Linked DNA regions of Homo sapiens: region 2 is linked to region 1. Evidence: fine-mapped expression QTL. Tissue or cell type: blood mononuclear cells. Region 1 holds a variant in brackets; the other region holds the start of a gene. All regions are shown on one strand. Distances are between the middles of the regions.

What was found. PIP is the estimated chance that this variant, and not a neighbour inherited with it, causes the effect.
Region 2: it holds the start of SEPTIN4, and the variant in region 1 is fine-mapped to the expression of SEPTIN4 in blood mononuclear cells (TOPMed, PIP 0.97).

The regions. Positions count from the first base shown.
Region 1 is chr17:58,496,449-58,499,135 of GRCh38, reverse strand. All of the region lies in intron 14 of MTMR4 (myotubularin related protein 4), which reads left to right. Among named protein-coding and RNA genes, the nearest start is that of HSF5, 9.4 kb to the right of the region's middle. The variant T/C (reference allele first, on the strand shown) is at 1,166.
Region 2 is chr17:58,543,027-58,545,713 of GRCh38, reverse strand. SEPTIN4 (septin 4) reads left to right here and starts at 1,386. Exons shown (of 14, transcript NM_001368771.2): 1 at 1,386-2,687. The coding sequence starts at 1,528. SEPTIN4-AS1 (SEPTIN4 antisense RNA 1) reads right to left here. Exons shown (of 5, transcript NR_110810.1): 3 at 2,116-2,257; 4 at 1,043-1,178.

The DNA of each region.
Region 1 (2,687 bases):
CAGTGAAGAGTTTATTTTGATTCAGTTGTCAATAGGAAGTCATTGTAGGAAGTTACTGTGGTCTGCTGACAGTGGGATCCTTGGAGAACTAATCAGTGAGTACAGGGTAGCTGGAGGCACAGAGACCAGCCAGCACTGCTGTAGTAGTTCAGATATGAGGGGAAGAGTCCCTGGCAAAGAGAAAGGATTAAATTCAGAAGCACTGTAGAGAACCATTGGCAGGCTACAGAATTGAAAGTTGGAGAGTAGAAGTGAAAAGTACTTTGGGTCCCAAGTATCTGAGCTTAAAAAGTAGGAGAATATTAGTACCACTAATAGACATTGAAAGGTCGAGAAGACCAGCCAGTTTGGGGAGAAAGCGGAGATACAGGGAAATTGGGATTGAAATATTAGTTGACAGCAAAGAAGGAGGTGTGTTGTAGGCAGCTCAAGATGGAGAGTAGATTTCGAGAAATAATTGGTATAAAGATTTTAAAGGAAATGGTCTCTGTAACAACTGACCTGACTTACCTTTGATTCTACCTTTCCCTAGATCAAAAATGTCCTTCTTCTTCTCCTTCTTCTCCCCCTCCTCCCCCTCCTCCCCCCTCCTCCCCCCTCCTCCCCCGCTTCTCCTTCTCCTTCTCCTCCTCCTTCTTCTTCTTCTTCCATTAAAGTCATAAACACATTCTTCTATACCCATCTCAAATCCTACCCTCTCTCTGTAGCCTTCCTTGACCTCCTAGCTGGATGAGCTCTCTCTCCTTGTTGTAAACTCAGGTATTATTATCTCTGTCAACATTGCTGACTAACCTTTGGTACACATAGAATGAGTTGTGGAGGATGGCAGAATGTTGTTATTTGAATTTGGATGAAGAGCACATGGAAGTTAATTATATTCTTCTTTTTGTTGTTGTTTGAGACAGAGTCTTGCTCTGTCACCCAGGCTGGAATATAGTGGTGCGATCTCGGCTCACTGCAACCTCTGCCTCTTGCCTCCCAGGTTCAAGCGATTCTCATGCCTCAGCCTCCCAAGTAGGAGCTGGGTTTACAGGCATGCACCACCATGCCCAGCTAGTTTTTGTATTTTTAGTAGAGATGGGATTTCACCATGTTGGCCAGGCTGGTCTTGGACTTGTGGCCTCGAGAGATCTGCCTGCCTTGACCTCCCAAAGTGTTGAGATTA[T/C]AGGCATGAGCCACTGTGCCCAGCATATTCTTTACTTCTTTTGTATGCTTGAAAGTTTCCATAATAAAAAATAAAATGAAAGAAGTCAGCTGTGGCACTTAAAAGAATACAGATCCCTAGGCCCCACTCTTGGCCATTCTTATTCAGTAGGTCTTGGGTGGACCCTGGTTGTCTGGATGTCTAAGAAGATCCACTAAGATGCCTGATGTGTATCACACATTCAATTGGCACCTAGCAGTGGAAACCTCATGTTGTATTTTGAGCTCATTCATTCATTTCTCAAGTCATTTGCCCCTGGTACTGTGCTAGGCGCTGGGGATTCAAATAAGACAGAGTCCTGCCTTCAGGACACTTCAGTAGAGGGAGTTAAACAAGTAAACAATAAAGTGCAATAATGTGTTATAGGAAGCACTGAGCAATGTGCTTTGATGTGGATTCTTTTGTTTAATCTTCATAATAGCTTTAAGAGCTAGGTACTTTACCTTTATTCCATAGATGAGGGATCTGAGGCGTAGAGAAGTTAAAGTCACACAGCAAAGATGTTGTTAAATTGGGATTTGAACCCTGCCTATGGGACTCCAGGAACTATAATGATAACCACTGTTATTGCCTTCCTGGAATTTCGTACCATTAAAAAAATCAAAATTCGTCACAAAAGGTATATCAAGTATGTATAAAACATTTGTTTTAAGTTTCAAAAACCGATTACTTAAAATAAGCTGCGTTGTAACTGCCTTTGGGGAATTTTTCCGCATAGGCTGAACTGACTGAGCCATCTAAAAATAGGAGGCCAGTGAAGCCTCTACTGTTTCCCTGGTGAATTTCACTCAAGTTTTCATTGCTCTAAGGACTTTGAACTGCATTAATAATCAGGATGGTCACTCTTGAAAATGTCCCTTAACCTATCTGGTATATATGAATGCCTCTAGAACTCTGAGTGCTATATACTAGGGGAAGTTTCATGGGGCCTTGGGAAGCAGAGGAGCACACTGCTGCTAAGTGGTTATCAAGAGCAGTGTTGAGGGAGTTGTGTTGTCTTAATAAAGTTTGTGGTTATTATGTTTGTGGTTGGTTGCCTGTATTTTGAATTCTCATAGCATCTCTACAAGGTATGATTTATTATCATCATTGTATAAAGGGAGAAACCAAGTATCTGAGAGGTTAATTTACTTATTTGTAGTCATGTAGCTAATTAGCGTCAGAGCCAATATTGTCTAGCTCCAAAACCCATCTTCTTTCTGTTTTACTGTGATGGAGGCAGTGGGATATTGGGTTTGAGTCTCAGGTATAGTCCTAGCTGGAACAGTAGATTCAGAAGGCATTGGCATAGAAGGCAGCTGAAACCACTGTAGTGGTTGAGATTGCCCAGGGAGACTGGTAGGTTGAGTGCTGACAAAAGCTGAGGATAGATTTTTGGGTTCCGGAGGACACGGTCCATGTCTCATGCTTTTTTTACAGAGTAAACTTTCAGTGAACATTGGTTATTTGTGATCTTAAGGGTCCTTATTTCTAAACTTAAGTG
Region 2 (2,687 bases), 47 kb before region 1:
AAGAGAGAACCGGAGTCCGGCTGATTGGATAGCTGACAGGATCATGAGAAAGGACATTAACATTTGTTGTGTGACACCCATGTACCAGGCAGTGGTTTCCAGGTGAAGAAACCAAGTCCCAGGGAAGGCAGGTAATTTCTCCTAGGTACACCTGTAGTCATTTATGATGGAAACCAATGATTAACTCCAAATTCCTTCTTTCTTTCTTTCTTTCTTTTTTTTTTTTTTTTTTGAGATGGAGTCTTGCTCTGTCACCCAGCCTGGAGTGCAGTGGCACGATCTCAGCTCACTGCAGCCTCCGCCTCCCAGGTTCCAGCGATTCTCGTGCCTCAGCCTCACGGGTAGCTGGGATTACAGGCACGCACCACCACGCCTGGCTAATATTTGTATTTTTAGTAGAGATGGGGTTTCACCATGTTGGCCAGGCTGGTCTCAAACTCCTGACCTCAGGTGATCCACCCGCCTCAGCCTCCCAAAGTGCTGGGATTACAGGTGTGAGCCACTGCACCCAGCCCAAATCCCTTTTATTTTGTTTTTATTTATATATATTTTTTGAGATGGAGTTTTGCTCTTGTCACCCAGGCTGGAGTAAAGTGGCACAATCTCAGCTCACTGCAACCTCCAACTCCCGGGTTCAAGCGATTCTCCTGCCTCAGCCTCCTGAGTAGCTGGGATTATAGGTGCCTGCCACTATGCCTGGCTAATTTTTTTGTATTTTTAGTAAAGACGGGGTTTTATCATGCTGGCCATGCTGGCCTCAAACTCCTGACCTCAGGCAATCCACCCGCCTCGGTCTCCCAAAGTGCTGGGATTACAGGCGTGAGCCACCGCACATGGCAAATCCCTTTTATTAATAAAACACTAAACTCTCCTGGAGCAAGAATGTGAGAATTTTATTATTTGAGCAACCTGGATTTTTACCCCAGGAGCAATGAAACAATCCATGAGACCTGGAAAAAGCTGAAGCTCTCTTTTTTTTTTTTTTTTTAACTTGTATACAGTACAGTTTCAAACAAAATTGGGGCAACTTTGTACTTCGTACCTTATTAAAACTGGGGCGAACACAGCGTGTTTGGTTTGATCTTGTCTTCATAGGATCTTCTGGCTGATTCCTTCTCTGGATGAGTCCTGAGAATTTCTAGAATCTCGGGAGAGTAAAGGAGGGTCTGGAGCCTTCTCTATGTACAAGGAAATCCCAGTTTTGTTAAAAACTTGCCAAAGGCTTGGTGATATAACTCCAAAGACAAATCCACAGATTCCTTTCAGGTACTTCTTTGGGATTCTGTGAAGAATTGTGGCTGTACACTAGGATGTTTAATAGGAAGGAAGCTCCTTCCTTTATGACATCACCAGACAGAGAGGTAGCTAAGGGGATTATTTGAGACACTCTTAGAACAACAGCCACTTTTGTGGGAGCCCAAGAAACAGCAGCTTTAAAACAGGGTAAATATTCAGGCATCATTAGGATCCTGAATACAAGCCAGCCAGTAAAATACGGGATCTACTCAGAAGGGCACAATCTATCAGATGGTCAAGACAAATAAACCTGGGGCCAAGGTAGCGGTTTCAGCACAGAGAGGGTCTGAGGTTACTACTAACACATCCCCTCAGCAGGGACATGGGTACGTTCTTGCCTCAAGCCATCGAAGTGCTGCAGTCTCCCTGAACCCTTCCCACCGAAGATCAGAAGCTGCACATCCCACCACTCCCCATTCAGCATCAGACTACCCTCGATCTGTCTCCCTCCAGTCAGGACCTGGACACTATGCAGTACCCACTCCTCGGGGACCCGAGACTGGACCAAGAACAGAATCATCCCGCCATTCCTCTCCCCATCTAAAGAGCCAGAAGACTCAGACACTGGCTTCCCATGCTTCAAGCAGACAATGGAAAGTTAGTCCACCCAGAGAGGAAGCAGCACGAAGAGGCAGTGAGAGCAAGTCAGGGCGCGAGGTCGGCCATCATGCTTCATCAATCCCAGATGCCAAATCTACTCATCAGTTGAGTTTTCAAGACCAGAAGAATAACTTACAATCACAAATCTTAGAAGATGACCCACCATCCAAGGTCCAGAACCCCCAAGGAGTCAGAGTTCCCCGTAGGATTTTGTCTTACCCAAAGGATGAAGCAGTACAAACTGAGCCCATCCAAAGAATTACGACTACTAGTGAGATCAGATCTCCAAGGAGTCCCTCTCTCCTAGAGCACGGAAGCAGCTGTGTCTCTGCAGACTATCAGACAGCCCAGAGAAGGGTCCCTGTAGAAGAATCAGAAACAGGTCCTTACGGTCCAATTCCTTCAAAACCCAAGGCCTTGTATAGGAATATGAACTTGGACTCATTGCTCAAACTCTCTGTCCTTAAAGATTCTGATGGTGTACACCGAGTTTCTGCACGGGTAGACCCTGAGTCTCTTCATAAGTATTCTGCCTATCCTGAAACCAAGCCCTCCGCAAAGGTCTTAGTATCATCACAGGTGGAGTCCAACGTGAGGACCCCAATCCGAGGAAACAGCGAGGTTGGCCGCAGGGTCACCATCTCCCCAGGGGTACAGTCAGTAGAGCCAACTCACCATGTGACAGTTCCATCAGTGTCTGAGGGCTCCCACAAGTCATCCATGTTTGTTACTCCAGAGCCCATCTATAAACAGCAAACCCAAAAACCCCCAGAAATTACTTACATGTCCCA